Linked DNA regions of Homo sapiens: region 2 is linked to region 1. The links come from fine-mapping of genetic effects on gene expression. Tissue or cell type: whole blood. Region 1 holds a variant in brackets; the other region holds the start of a gene. All regions are shown on one strand. Distances are between the middles of the regions.

Region 1 (8,105 bases):
AGCACTCTGCAGGCTCTTCAAATTTCTTTCAGTTATGGGGACATTTCTTTAATACTTTCTTCACTACTGGAGTTTCTGTTTTCTCTTTTTTGGAATTTCTGAATTTATCCTCTAATTTTCTTATATTGTCTCTTATTATCCACTTTTGTCTTTTATTCTGCTTTCCAGAAGTTTTCCTTTTAGTTTGTCATTGTTTTTTAGAGACAAATTCTCAGCGGCTGGGCACGGTGGCTCATGCCTGTAATCCCAGCACTTTGGGAGGCCGAGGCGGGCGGATCACAAGGTCAGGAGATCGAGACCATCCTGGCTAACGCGGTGAAACCCCTTCTCTACTAAAAATACAAAAAATTAGCCAGGCGTGGTGGTGGGCACCTGTGGTCCCAGCTACTCGGAAGGCTGAGGCAGGAGAATGGCGTGAACCCGGGAGGCGGAGCTTGCAGTGAGCCGAGATTGAGCCACTGCACTCCAGCCTGGGCGTCACAGAGAGACTCCATCTCAAAAAAAAAAAAAAAAAAAGAGACAAATTCTCGCTCTGTCACTCAGGCTGGAGTGCAGTGGCACTATCATAGCCCACTGCAGCCTCAAACTCCGGGGCTCAAGCAATCCTCCTGCCTCAGCCTCCCAAGTAGCTAGGACTGCAGGCTTGTACCACTTGTACCACCATGCCCTGTTAATTTTTTAATAGAGATAGGGTTTCACTATGTTGCCCAGGCTGATCTCAAACTCCTGGTCTTAAGAGATCCTCCCACTTTGGTCCCCAGTGTGGTGGTGTTGGGTGACGGGACTTTTAAGAGGTGATTTGGTCATTAAGAGAGACTGATGCCATTCTCTCGAGACTGGGTTAATTCTGGAGGCAGTGAGTTCTCACTCTTTTGGGACTGGATTGGTTATTGCAAGGGCAGGCTGTTATAAAGTGAGGTTCCCCTTAAGTTTTGCCCCTTTGACACACACCTGCTTCTCTTCTGCTTTTCCATCATGTTATGATGCAGCACTAGCCCCTCCCCCGAAGCCAACCAGATGCCACCCACTCGGTATTGGACTTTTCAGCCTCCAGAACCATGAGCTAAATAAATTTCTGTTCACTATAAATTACCCAGTCTGTAATTTATAGTGGTATATTCTGTTATACCAACAAAAAATGGACTAAAACAATCACTGTCCGTTTAGATTTACCCACACATTTATCATTTTCATTGCTTGTTATTCCATCTTACAGCTCATATTTTCCCTCTGATATTGCTTTTCTTTCTTCTGACCTAATTTTTTAAGAATTTCCTTTAGGGGGATATGTTCATACAAAATATTTCAGTTTTTCTCTGAAAGTGTATTCAGTTCATCTTCATCCTTGAATGATTCTTGGGCCTGCAGTTCTAGATGGACATGTGTTTTCTCCCAGCACATCAAAGCTATTGTTCCATTGTCTTCTCGTTCCCATTTTTGCTATTGAGAAATCAGTAGAAAGTCTAATTTTGTTTTCATATATGTAATCCATCCTTTATTTCCAGCCACTTTTAAGATTATGTCATTTTCTTTGGTATTCTGTGGTTTCTAGGTATGCTTTTTAAATTATTCTTTAAAAACTGAATCGAGGCTGGGCGTGGTGGCTCACTCCTGTAATCCTAATACTTTGGGAGACCAAGGTAGGTGGATCACCTGAGGTCAGGAGTTTGAGACCAGTCTGGCCAACATGGTGAAACCCTGTCTCTATTAAAAATACAAAAATTAGCCAGGTGTGGTGGCACATGCCTGTAGTCCCAGCTACTCAGGAGGCTGAGACAGGAGAATCGCCTGAACCCAGGAGGCGGAGGCTGCAGTGAGCCGAGATCATGCCACTGCATGGCATTTTCTTCATCTGATTTTTTTTTTTTTTTGAGACAGAGTCTTGCTCTGTCACCCTGGCTGGAGTACAGTGGCATGACCTTGGCTGACTGCAACCTCCACCTCCGGGGTTCAAGCCCTTCTTGTTCTTCAGCCTTCTGAGTAGCTGGGATTACAGGCATGCACCACCACATCTGGCTAATTTTTGTATTTTTAGTAGAGACGGTTTCACATGTTGGCCAGGCTAGTCTCGAACTCCTGACCTCAAGTGATCCACCCGCCCTGGCCTCCCAAAGTGCTGGGATTATAGGTGTGAGCCACTGTGCCTGGCCTCTGAATTTTTTTTAATGTTGCTTTTATCCTTTTTCTTTTGATAACTTTGTTCAGTTTCTTTGAATACCCTTTCTTCTCTATCTTTTTAATGAAACTTTCCAAACACAGAAAAGTCGAAAGAACTATGCAGCAAATAGCTGTATACATACCACCTATGCCCTTAACATTTCACTGTACTTGCTCTATATGACTTTTTTATGTGTCTAAAGTGAGTTGCAGACATCAGGTTCCCACCCCTAAATCTGCCGGTTATGCATTTCTCTTTTAGCTACCTTTGACTTGGGGGGAACTCTTCCTGTGCCAAGTAATTGAAGACATTTGTGCACAGTAGGGGGAAGCTTTTGTTTCTGCCTAGCAGGAAGCATTTCCAGTTTCCAGGAACGTTGCTAATTTAGAGGAATATGTGTATGTGTGAGTTGCTTAAACTTCCTTTGCCCCAGATGGCCAAGAACAGCATCCGGAAAGCCACTTACAGTGCAGCAGCTCAGCCCCACCTCCTCCTGGCAAGCAGGCAGCATCCTGTCCAGACAACTGTGTGTTGATCCCTCCTCCAGCACTGCTTTCCTGGCCCCAGACATCAATGGCAGCAAGTGCCAGGAAGGTTCCAACGGCCAGGCTGTATCTCTCACTCTTTGTGTTCCAAACAGGTGACTGCTGGTTTGCCCATCACAACGAGCCTCTTGTGCCTTGTAGGCTTAGTCTAAGATCAGAACCATGGGCACTCCTTCTTGGCTTCCTCCTCGACTCACTTGACTTTTCCTGTGTTGGTAGCTCTTCCTCCTCTGACCTTTCAGATACCCCCTAGTTATGCCAGAAGTGCAGAGTGCATTTATGTTTCTGAATCCTCCTTGCTGGTCTGGTGTAATTCCTGAAAGAAGGCATACTGCAGTAATTTTACTTATGATTCTTTTTGCAACTAGCAAGATCAACCAGATATTTATTTATTTTCATTTTTTAGAAAATTTTAATATAATTTTAATGTTGTAGGGAGCATGGGGAATATGGAGAAGGGCAGGAAGAGACTTTTGTGGGTGATGTTGGTTAGCTTGATTGTGGTGGTGATTTCATGGATATATACAAATGTCAATATCAAAGATAAAAATTGTATAATTTAAATATGTGCAGTGTATCATATATCAATTATACTTCAATAAGCCTGTTAAAATAGTTTTAACAATGATGATATATTGCAACTTTTATGTATTTTAAACTAATTGAGTTTTTATACATGAAATTGTACATGTAATTGAGTTTAAAATACGTAAAATTTTAATGACAAGTTAAATTTTATAACATACATTCAGTAAAGTGCATAAATCTTAAATGCATAGTATAATTAATTTTTCATATGACTACCACTACCACTCAGATGAAAATATAGAATACTGGCTGGAAGCAAATGGCTCATACCTGTAATCCCAGCATTTTGGGAGACCAAAGCAGGAGGATCCCGTGTGGCCAGGTATTTGAGACCAGCCTAGGCAACATAGCGAGACCCCATCTCCACAAAAAATAAAAAGTAAAAATATTAGCCATATGTGGTGGCACATACCTGCAGTCCCAGCTACTCGGGAGGCTGAAATGAGAAGATCAGTTGAGTCTGGGAGGTTGGGGTTACAGTGAGTTATGATTGTGTCACTTCATTCCAGCCTGGGCTACAGAGCAAGACCCTGTCTCTAAAAGAATAAAAAAAAATATAGAATACTTCCAACACTTCAGAAGATCCCTCGCGCCCTCCTAGTCATTATCCCCTG[A/C]GGGTAAGCACTATTCTGACCTCCATCACCATGGATTGGTTTCGCCTGTTCTTGAACTTTATATTAATGGAGATGCATTCACGCTGATACTTGCGGCAATAGTTTGCTCATTTTCGTTGCCATATAGTATTCCACTGTATGAATATATCACAATTTATTTATTCATTCTCTTTTTGATGGACATTAGGGTTGTTTCAAGGTTTTGGCTGTTATGGATAAAGCTGGTATGATCATTCTTATTCAGGACCTTTAATGGACATTTGTGGTCTTTTTACTTGAGTGTTGTAGTAAGTAGTATAATAGCCCCCCAAAAGATATGTCCACATCCCAACCCTCGGAACCTGTGACAGTGACTTTATTTGGAAAAGGAGTCTTTGTACATGTAATTTTTTTTTTTTTTGAGATGGAGTCTCACTCTGTTGCCCAGGCTGGAGTGTGGTGGTGCAATCTCGGCTCACTGCAACCTCTGCCTCCTGAGTTCAAGCAATTCTCCTGCCTTAGCCTCCCAAGTAGCTGGGATTACAGGCATGCACCACCACACCCAGCTAATTTTTTTTTTTTTTTTTTTTTGTAGAGATGGGATTTCACCATGTTGGCCAGCCTTCACCATGTTGGTCAGGCTAGTCTCCAATTCCTGACCTCAGGTGATCTGCCCACCTCGGCTTCCCAAAGTGCTGGGATTGTGGGTGTGAGCCACCGCACACAGCTTGTACATGTAATTAAATTAAGGATCTCAAGATAAGATCAGCTTGTATTATCTGAGTGGGCTGTAAATCCAATGACAAGGGTCCTTGTAAGAGACACAGGGAGTAGGAGAAGGCCATGTGGAGACAGAGGCAAAGATGAGGGTTATGCAGCCCCAAGCTAAGGACTGTTTAGAGCCAACAGAAGCTGGAAGAGGCAGGGAAGGATTAGAGCCTTCAGAGGGAACATGGCGCGGCTGACACCTTGACTTTGGCCTTCTGGTCTCTAGAACACTGAGATAATAATTCTGTTGTTTCAAGCCACAAAGTTTGGGATCATTTGTGACGGCAGCCAAAGGAAATTAATAATACAAAAGTTCACTTTATTAATACTCATTTATATTTGTTTGTGATGTGCACAACACTCCAATGGAAATTTTAAAAAGTGTTTGGAGTACAGACTTTCCCAAGCCTGGCTAACTTTTTCTTCCTTCTCTGGGAATGGATGTTTTGCGCAGTGTACAGAAGTGTGGAGAGTGACCCCAATGTCCTTGTTGATGTGTGTCTGTAAATCTTACCTGTCACAGTGTGGGCACTCTGAGAGCCCTGTGTCCCCACCAGAAGCATCTGTTCCTTATGCAGCCTGAGTGTCCTCTGCTAGGGTGGCCAGTTCCCCTCCTCCTGCCCTGCCTTTTTGCAGGTTCACAGGTGCAAGACTGGCTGTTTCCTGTTAATATTAACTATACTTGAATTTTCAAGGATTTTTTTAAGAAAAAAATATATAATGCCAATACAAAAAAAAACACAGGAAAAAAAATTAACCTTACTAAACTAAACCTGCCCTGATAGGAGGGTTCTTCTCACAAACCTGACTGCAGAGCAAAATGGAATTGCTCCAATTTCTCCCTTTGCAAACAGGCATGCATCAACTTCTCATTTTAACAACTTTCTTTCTTTCTCTTTCTTCTTTCTTTCTTTCTCTCTCTCTCTTTCTTTTTTTCTTTTTTTTTTTTCAGACAGTCTTGCTCTGTCACCCAGGCTGGAAGTGTAGTGGTGCGATCTTGGCTCACTGCAGCCTCCATCTCCTGGGTTCAAGGGATTCTCCTGCCTCAGCCTCCTGAGTAGCTGGGACTACAGGTGCACGCCATCACACCCAGCTAATTTTTTGTATTTTTAGTAGAGAGGGGGTTTCACCATGTGGGCCAGGCTGGTCTTGAACTCCTGGCCTCAAGTGATCCACCCGCCTTAGCCTCCCAAAGTGCTGGGATTACAGGCATGAGCCACTGTGCCCAGCCTTTAACGACTTTCTTAATAAGTGGTGTGGGAAAACACCCAGAGCTAAACAAAACCAACATGGGGAAGTGACAAGCATTTGAGAATTCTTACATTTCTCATAGCTGTATTCCCCCAGAATCTGGTATCCAGCTTTTTTTTTTTTTAGTCTGGAGACAGGTTGGAGTGCAGTGGTGTGATCAGGGCTTACTGCAGCCTTGCCCTCATGGGCTCAAGCAATCTGCCTGCCTCAGCCTCCCAAGTAGATGGGTCCACAGGCATGTGCCATCAGCCTGGTTAAATTTTCTATTTTTTTTGGTGAAGATGAGGTCTTGTTATGTTGTCCAGGCTGGTCTCAAACTCCTGGGCTCAAGCAATCCTCCTGCCTCTGCCTCCCAAAGTGCAGAGACGATAGGCAGGAGCCATTCCAGCATCTCATATGATGTGGTTGTTGAAATCGACTCTCTCGGGAACATTTAACAATAGCTAAAACAGTTGAGTGGGCACTGGGTGTGTGCTTCAGCTCAGGCTCTTACTTATATTGTTAGATTCCCTCAAAATCCCTGGAGGTGGGGAATTTCCTTGAGGTGGGGGTTTTCCACGCTTTCCAGATGAGGGCTGTACGCTCATTGACTAGAGGCACCGTGTCTAAGTGTCTGAGGCTTAATTCCCATTCTCTAGAAGAGCAGCTGACTATGTGTATGTCAGTGGGAAAGGGGAGAGCCCAGAAAATCATTGCAGTTTATCACAGCCACCCCCACCCCCTCCATCACTGCAGAAACTGAGCCTCCACTATCTTGGAGTTTCCTTGAAGAGTTCCCAGTCTTGGTGAAATATGGGATGGACGGCCAGGCACAGTGGCTCACGCCTGTGATCCCAGCACTTTGGGAGGCCAAGGTGGGTGGATCACTTTAGGTCAGGAGTCCGAGACCAGCCTGACCAACATGGTGAAACCCCATCTCTACTAAAAATACAAAAATTAGCCAGGCGTGGTGGCGCATGCCTGTAATCCCAGCTACTCGGGAGACTGACGTAGGAGAATCTCTTGAACCCAGGAGGTGGAGCTTGCAGTGAGCTGAGATTGCGCCACTGCATTCCATCCTGGGCAACAGAGCGAGACTCTGTCTCAAAAATAATAATAATAATAATAATAATAATAAGAAATATGGGATGGAATTTCCATTGGATGTTAAAGATCCTTCCAAAATAGGTATTTTCCACAGAAAATGTTATATTTGGTCTGACAACTCCTTGCAAAAATGAACTCAAATGGTCAGGAATATTTGTTGCTCTAGGTTTTCAGAAGCAGAATGGGCATCCTTTCTTAGAATACATTCTGGGCCCCTCAGGGTGTTCAGGGTGGGAATAAAGTATATAAAATGAGAAGTCAAAACAGGGAAGAGGTACTAGGGGGGAAGCTGGGCAGAGGAAAGGAACCCTTGGGAGGCCCAAACTTTAATGCTCTGGTTCATAAAATGCAAAAAAAAAAAAAAATCCATTCTCATCCCTCCTGTCCTGTTATTGTCAAGATGCTAGCTCCTTGGACAATTCAGGATACACCAAGCTTTCTCCCCGGATAGCCGCAAGTTTAAGGGCAGGAAATGGCCTTGGACTGGGTGCCTTTGCTGAGAGAACAGCAGCACTTTGATCCAAGATGTCCAAAAGACAAAGCAGAAGTTCATGAGAAACAGAGGCCCCAGCATCACTTGGGGTGGCGGGGAGGGACCTGTGCAGCTTGCGCCATGGACACCTCGTTAGTGCATAGGAGTGCATCAGTTTTACAGAAACGGGGCTCCATCTAGCCCAAAGGGAGAACGCCCAGGCTGTGATCAAAGGATTGAGGGTAGGACATCAAAGGTTAGGGACTTTCCCGAGTGGAAAATATGGGAAGGGATTGGGTCAAAACCTTACAGAGAATGTGGGCGAGATTTGGTAAGACGTCAAAACTTAACCAGACCCAAGTGGGCATATTTAGGGGAAAACCAGAAGTCATAGTTCATTGGAAACAGACAGATACGGTCAACAAATCTTCATGTATCTGGGGAGTGCAAATATCACGTTATTCCTTATTGTGTGTCAGAAATACGCAAGCCCACACTGTGTTGAGTACCTGCGTGGGAGTGGGAGATGTTCAGGCCTGCACACGACCTATCTGTGCCTCAGCTCTTCTTGTGGAAAAGTGCTATAGAAACAGCACAAGATCTGGACCATCCAACTCACCAACCCACCCCAGCTGGAATTCAGT
Region 2 (8,105 bases), 150 kb before region 1:
CCAAAAAATAAATCTTAATAATTTTGAGATTAATATGTTTTCTCTGATCACAATAGAATTTTTGTAGATCTATCTACAAAATTGTAGATATCTACAATATGATATCTACAAAATCCTAAAATTTACAGATTAAATATTAAATAAATAAATACTATAATAAATATTAAATTTAAATAGTTAAATATTTAAAATACTCATATTCATATTTAGAATGAAAGCAAGACACACTTTTATATAATCAATATATTAAAAAATAACAAGGAAAAATATAAAATATTTTGGACTGAATAAGCAAAACACAGCAAATCAAAATTTGTGATAGACAGCTAAAGTGTGGCAGCTTTAAGCGTTTATGTTTAAAACAGAAACATTTTAAGAAACAATGATTTAGGTTTCTACCCTGAGTAGAAGAATCAAGGAATAAATTAAATATAAAATGAATGGAAAAGAAGAAATAATAAAAATAGACACGGAAATAGAAATGATAGAGACACATTAATTCTATTAATTTCTATTTATAGACATTTCTATATATAATATAGAAATTATAAAGTGTAATAAAATGGAGAAACCTCTATCAAGATTGAAGAAGAAATAACAAAGAGAAAACTCAAATTACCAATATTAGGAATAAAAAGGGAAGGGCATGAGTCAGATCTGAAAGACATTAAAAGGGTAATGGGGAATTATAAACATCCTCTAAGAAAAAATATGCAGTTCCAGACGGTTTTTCAGGTGAATTCTATCAAATGTGTAAGAACAATATTTTACCTGTGTTACACAAACTCTTTCAGAAAGTGGAGAAAGGGGCAACTTTTCGTAACTCATTCTATAAGGCCAGTATTACTCTAATATCAAAACCTAACAAGAAGAGAAAATTACAGATTAATATCGCTCATAACATAGACACAAAAGTCTTTGGCAACACTTTAGGAAAACCAAATATAAAAAGATGATCTTTTGTGACTAAGTAAGTTTTTCCCCAGGAAGGCAAAGATTCATTTAACACCTAAAAATCAATCAATGTAATTCATCATATTAAGAGAATAAAAGAGAAATGTCCTATGGTGATCTCAATAGCTGTGGGTCTCACACCACTTACCAAAAACATTCTAAGTAAAGCAGGAATTCGAGAGAATTCATTTCTGTGATAAAGCATATCTACAAAAAATCTTCAGTTAATACCATACTGAATACTCTTAACCTATGATTAGGAACTGGGAAAGAATATCCATTGTCTCTTCTTGTATTTGATAGTTTCCTGGATGTTGCAGCAAATGTAGAAGATAAGAAAAATTAATAAAAGGCATAGAGATTAAAAGAGAAGAAAGAAAAGTGCCTTTAAGCACAGAAAACGTTTGTCTATGTAGAACATCTGAAAGAGGGCTGGGCACAGTGGTTCACACTTGTAATCACAGCACTTTGGCAGGCCGAGGTGGGCAGATCACCTGAGGTCAGGAGTTCAAGACCAGCCTGGCCAATATGGTGAAACCTGGTCTCTACTAAAAAAACAAAAATTAGCTGGGCATGGTGGCACATGCCTATAATCCCAGCTACTCAGGAGGCTGAGGCAAGAGAATCGCTTGAACCCAGGAGGCAGAGGATGCAGGGAGCTGAGATTGCACCACTGTACTCCAGCCTAGGGGGGATACAGCAAGACTAAAAAAAAAAAAACACTAAAGAATCTACAAAGAAACTACAAAATGTAAATAGAAAATGAGCAAGGTTTCAATACAAAAGTAAATATATCAAAAGCAGTTGTTTTGTCCATATACTACTATATGCCAATATATGTATATAGTACGTGAGTACACACACACACACACACACACACACACACACACACACACACACACCCCATCATCATCATCATTTTCAGGGGCTAGGGAAGTTGATATTGGTCAATTATCAATCTCACCCAGGGCCCTGACAGCTGGCCTATGGAATTATTGCAAGTGATATTGGTGCCCTTGGGGCATAAAGCTTTTAAGCTAGCATGGATCTTGTATCTACCTGATGTACATCTTATGTCCTCGTTCCTGGGAGAAGACAGCTCACAGACAGCTGAGTTTTTGGCTGCACATCCTACTTAGAAGAGAAATGCCTGATTGTGCCATGCTGACAAGTGTTGGTCCTGGCAAATACAGAAGGAAATAAAGAGAAATAAAAAGCATGTAGATTACAACAGAAGGAAAACTAGCTTTATTCACAGAAACATGATTCCTAGAAACATTATTGTGTATGTAGAAAATCCTATGGAATCTGCAAAGAAACTACCTGAAATCAAAAGCGATTTCAGTGAGGTTCAATATACAAACTCAATATGTATGCATATATACATTTATGTACATACACAGTCATGCACCTCATAACAAGGTTTTGGTCAACAATGAACTGCATATACGACAGTGTTCCCATAAGATAATATGACATTGTTACTGTTTCTTTTCTGTGTTTAGATATATTTAGATACACAAAGACTTAACGTTGTGTTACAATTGCCTCAAATTCAGTATATGCCGTACAGGTTTGTAGCTACAGGCTATACCATATGGCCTAGGAGTATAGTCAATTATACCATCTAGGTTTGTGTAGGTACAGTCTATGATGTTTGCACAATGACGAAAATCACCTAATGATGCATTTCTCAGAAGGTATTCCCATTGTTAAAGCGACACTGGACTGTATTATATGTATTACCTATATTCTACCAATGAACTATCAAAAATTAAAATTTAAAAGATTCCATTTACAATAGCATTTACAAACCCCATAGAATACTTAGAAATAAATTAGCAAAAGCTGTGGAAGATCTATGCACAGACAACTGCAAAACAGTTGCAAATTTTCTCTTAAAAAGCCAGATAGTATGAGGTTGGTACAAAAGTAATTGCGGTTTGAAAGTAATGGCAAAAACCACAATTACTTTTGCACCAGCCTAATAAGTAGCATAGCCTTTGTGGGTCACGTTGTCTGTGACACAGACTCTTTGTGTTTCTGTGTATTCTGCTGCAACTCTTTAAAATTGTTAATAGGATCCTTCACTCACTGGCCTTACATGTAGGCTACAGGCTAAATTTGTTGGCCCATAGGCTGCAGTGCTGACCCTTGCTGCGAAATATTTCTAGGAGAAAATACTCAAGACCTAAATCTATGGAGATATATATCATCCCTGTGGCCTGGAAAAGTTAATATTGGCAAGTTGTCCATCTTGGCCAGGACCCTGAAAGATAGTCTATGTTATTGTAAGAAAGATTGGTGTCCTTGGGGGCATGGGCTTTTAAGCCAGGGTGGAATCTGCAGAAGTCTGAGGTGCCATTTCCTGTCCCTATACCTGGGAGAAAATAGCTCTCAGACAGCTGTGTGGCTTTCTGCAAAGCTCAATTAGAAGAGAAATTATCAGGCGTGGTGGCGCATGCCTGCAGTCTCAGCTACTTGGGAAGCTGAGGTGGGAGGATCTCTTGAGCCCAGGAGTTCGAGGTTGCAGTGAGCTGTGACTCCAGCCTGTGTGACAGAGTGATACGCTGTCTGGAGAAATTCATCATGGAGATATGCTGATAATTGGTGGTCCCTGCCTACATCCTCCCAGGAGACTGAGCCAGACCCGGTGTGGCCAATGGTCCACTTATAAATTGAACCATGTTAGACCTCCTAACAGTGCAAGTACTCATTACAGCTCTGACATGGTGCTAAGCACCCCAAGTATTATAAACAAGTGTAATCCATTATGCACACACGGTGAGGCTACACCAAAGTCTGGTGGTTAAATGCATGATCTGTGGAATCAGACAGCATGGGTTCAAACCCTGGCTGGGGTGAGATGGGGAACTTTCTAAGGCTTAAATGCTGTTTTACCAAATATTTTAAAAGAAGTGAAAATACACTGCCTGTTAGAAAGGGAAGTTTTGGGGTGAAGCATGTGGGCAGTTTAGAATACCTGGTGTCCACCTCAGAAACCATCACAGCCCAGATGTTATAGGTTCAGGCCTTTCCAGGGCGGGCACATAGAATGTCCTCGCCTCCAAGGTTTGGAGAGCTGCGCTATAAAGGTTCTTGCAGGCGGTGTCCTGAGCCCAGAGCTGCCTGCAGGCGGGCAGGAGTTGTGGGGGTGTTGGCATGATCTGGTGTCCTCTGTGGCGGCTGCCTGAAAAGAAGAGGCCGAGGGTTCTTTGTCCTATGTCTCTCCGAATCTTAATACCTGCCCTGCAGCAGACTCCCTGGCTGCCAGGGCACACCGGTCACCCCGGTAGACGGTGCCGCCCCGCCCTCGCCAACCCCTTATCCCAACTCCCATTTCCAGCCTTCCAGGAAGCCCGATCCCCACCCCCGCACCATGTGAGCTGCTCCTCTACTCCGCGTAGGGGAGGCTCTGCCTCCGGTGACCCCGAGGGAAAGAGCTAGAGCACCCACAGGTGCTGACTGCTGCGGCGCTGAGGACGCTGCACACCCGTTCACCGGCTGACCCAGTGCTGCTGACAACCAGCGTCCGCGGCCCCCAACCGTCGAACAGAGCGCGTGGGACCATCTGGTGCCAAACGCCTGCAACGGAGTGCAGAAGGTCACGAGGCGCTAGAGACCGGTTGGGGGCAGGCGGTTGGGCCTTGACGCTCTTTGCTGGGCGTCGTTTTTTCTTCTCGCCCCCTTCGCTCCTGTGCGCTTAGTGCACAAGCCCTGGGCTCACACACCCTTTCTCTGTCACGTGTTCCAACAGCATCTCACCTGCATCGGGCTGAACAGGAGACCTCAATTTTCTCCTCTACTCCAAGGATTCGCCGGCTCACAATTGCTCTTCATATCTTCAGCAAGCTTTGTCTGTGCCCTGCCCCTCTGTCCCCCATTGCCTACCATACCCGCTCCCACCAAGCCTGCATCACCTCGCTGTCTCTGTGCCTCTCCCCGGCCCCCTTCCAGGCCTTTCTCCCACAATTTCTGGTCTTTGCTCCTGGGTGTTCCGTCGACCCTAAGAGGCGGTGTCTGATCTGGCAGGCTCAATGCCTTTCTCTGGCGCTGTCTGCACCTCCAATATATTCAGTGACTCAGGAAGGATCCATCCTGCAGGGCCCAGATAGACTCTCCTGTTTGCCACCTGAGCAGAAAGGCACCTCTGTGAGGTCTTTGCCACCCAGTCACCCTACCAGACCCAATCAGCACGTGGGAGACGTGGATGACAGGAGGACAGAGATGGAGAGGGACCAAAAGACTACATGGGGCCTTGAAGGATGTCATAAGAACGTTGCCTTTTACTGAGAGATGGGAACCATGGAGGGTTTCAAACTGCTGAGACTGGCATGATATGACTTAGGGCTTTTTTGTTTGTTTGTTTGTTTGTTTTTTCTTTTTTGTGACGGAGTCTCAGAGTCTTCCTCTGTCATCCAGGCTGGAGTGCAGTGGTGTGATCTTGGTTCACTAGAACCTCTGTCTCCCGGGTTCAAGACATTCTCCTGCCTCAGCCTCCCGAGTAGCTGGGATTACAGGCACCCACCACCACGCCCGGCTAATTTTTGTCTTTTTAGATGTTTTATCTCAGAGAAAGAGCTTCCATGTTCTCTAACTCTTGTAAACAGGTATTCTTCAAGAAACTTTACAATATAACATTCATACACAGAAGTGTACAAATCATCTGTCTATTCCTCAATACATTTTTGCAGAATGAACAAACCTATGTAATCTAGATCAAGAAGCAAAACACAGGCACCTCAGAATCAACCTCATGCTCATTCCTAGTCACTATGCCCCTCCCAAATTTTTAACATTATAGATTAGTTTTGCCTATTTAAAAACTTTATATAAATGGAACCCTACCATGTGTCCTGTTTGTGGCTGTGTCTTTTCATTCAACACTTCATAAAATTCATCCATGTTGTTGCTTTTAGCAGCACTTTATTCTTTTATATTGCTGTGTGATGTTCCATTGAACAAATATAATTTACCCATTCTATTATTGATGGATGTTTGGCTATTAGAAATAATAATGCTACTGTGGCTAGGTGTAGTGGCTCATGCCTGTAATCCTAGCAGTTTGGGAGACTGAGGAGGGAGGATTGCTTGAGACCAAGAGTTCAAGACCAACCTGGCCAACATAGTGAGACCCCCATCTCTCTTTAAAAAAAAAAAAGAAAGAAATAATGCTGCTGTGAACATTCATGTGTATGTTTTCGACTACTTCTGAGGTAGGACGCAGGACTCGACTCCAGAGCCGGGGCTTGGACACTGGAGCAAATTGAGGACTAGCTAAAACAGGGTCAGGGTGGAAGCAGCTTTCCATCAGACACACCCACCAGTGTGCTATGTCAGTTTACATTTGTCATGGCAACATGCAGGAATTACTGCTCCTTTCCATGGCAATGACCCAATGACCCAGAAGTTACTACCCTTTTCCTAGAAATTTCAGCATAAACCACCCCTTAATCTGCATGCAATTAAAAGTAGATGTAAATATGACTGCAGAACTGCCCTGAGCTGCTGCTCTCTGCGCCCTGCCGATAGAGTAACCGTGCTCTGCAGGAGCAGTCACAGAGCTGTAACACTGCCTCTTCAATAGAGCTGTCTTCTTCCACCACCAGCTCACCCTTGAATCCTTTGCTGGGTGAAGCAAAGAACCCTCCCAAGCTAAGCCCCAATTTGGGCTTGCCTGCCCAGCATCACTTCCAATATCATGGAAATTTTCAGTGATGCCTACTATGAGGTTTATTGCTTAACTTTTCACATTTAGCTCTGGAATTCTCCTGTCGATTTGCATGTCTTTTGTAGATTTATTTCATGTTTATTGATGCTACTATAAATCCTCTGAAGGGATTTACCTTTGGATGTAGAAGGCAGCTAGGATGGGAAAGCACACTTTATTCTGAGATTAATGTAAGTCAGAGCCATGCTTCACTCTTTTTGAAGGCTGGCTCTCTCCTGTTATCCTTATTTCTGGGATACTGGCTTTCAGACGTTTTACATGAAAACCTGAGTATTTTTTGGGGACCCTCTTCATTGGCAGGTCCTGACTCTGAATTTTTTTCTCAGCAGCCGCTGAAATTGCTGAATTTTACCTCCAAAACTTGATTTGAAAAAAACGAAGCAAAGGTAGAAAGAATATCATTCTAAAATCATTGTTTTATAAACAGATTTTGCTACGTAGATGCAATTGGCCATAATAATGGCAGAGAAGGCCAGATTTTCTTTCTAACTGTTATAACAGTTTTTAAACATGAAAAAGGTTCATTTAGAAAACAATGTTAAGGTAGGGGCACGGCAGAGAATGGGAAGATGGTCAGCCGGGAGGAGCAGTGCAAGAAGAGAGCAAAGACACAAGCACTCTTGTGTGCAGAAAAGGCATGGTGAACATAGGGGTAAAAATCACTAGCCCTTCTCGGAGCAATTCCAACATTATCTGAAGGAAAGTCCATGGACCATGAGAACCCCCCACCTTCTGAGACACATATATCTGGACTGTGGGACTTTGACCCATGTTGGATCAGCCAGATCCCCTCTCCCTGGAGCAGTTTGTCGGCACAGGAAGAGAACAGCTCAGCCCTTGGAGAGAGAGTCACTTATGGGTAGGATGCCCTGGCTTCCTATGGCTGGCAAGTGTGAAAGTTGATTATATAAATTGAGCCATTCTTGTTATACCCAACTAAAACAGAATTGGAAGGCCAGGAGGAGAAAACACACTCAGGGCACGCCAAGAATGTAATTCTTTGCAAGCCTAGCTGCTGAAATTGCCTGCTGTAACCCAAAAACGGTTTTATGTAGTAGCTTCTGAAACAACCTGCCGGACTCTATGATTACTTTTACCCACTGCTATCACTTACCAATCAGAACTTGCCAGCTCCCCAAAACTTTACTAGTGCCAATGAGTTGTCTTTGCAAAATAAATTGTCTTTGCTCTTTTAACGAAACCTCTTTCTATTTGTTCTTCTAAAAGGCTGCCCAGTTGTGTGCCCTGAATTGCAATTTTCACTTCCCAAATAAAACAGTTTATATTTATAGAGATTTATCTCTGTATTTTGATTTCGACCCAACGCCCTGATTTGCTCACTGCTGTGATCCAGTTGTACCTCCAGGTTCAGTCAATCCTCTCCAATTCTTCAAGGATTGTCCCAAGATAGGTTAGTTTT

What was found. PIP is the estimated chance that this variant, and not a neighbour inherited with it, causes the effect.
Region 2: it holds the start of LINC01801, and the variant in region 1 is fine-mapped to the expression of LINC01801 in whole blood (TOPMed, PIP above 0.99).

What each region holds. Positions count from the first base shown.
Region 1 is chr19:34,983,053-34,991,157 of GRCh38, forward strand. No RefSeq gene overlaps it. Among named protein-coding and RNA genes, the nearest start is that of GRAMD1A, 13 kb to the right of the region's middle. The variant A/C (reference allele first, on the strand shown) is at 3,906.
Region 2 is chr19:34,828,393-34,836,497 of GRCh38, forward strand. LINC01801 (long intergenic non-protein coding RNA 1801) reads right to left here and starts at 4,477. Exons shown (of 6, transcript NR_033982.1): 1 at 4,333-4,477; 2 at 3,938-4,144; 3 at 2,014-2,134; 4 at 772-861.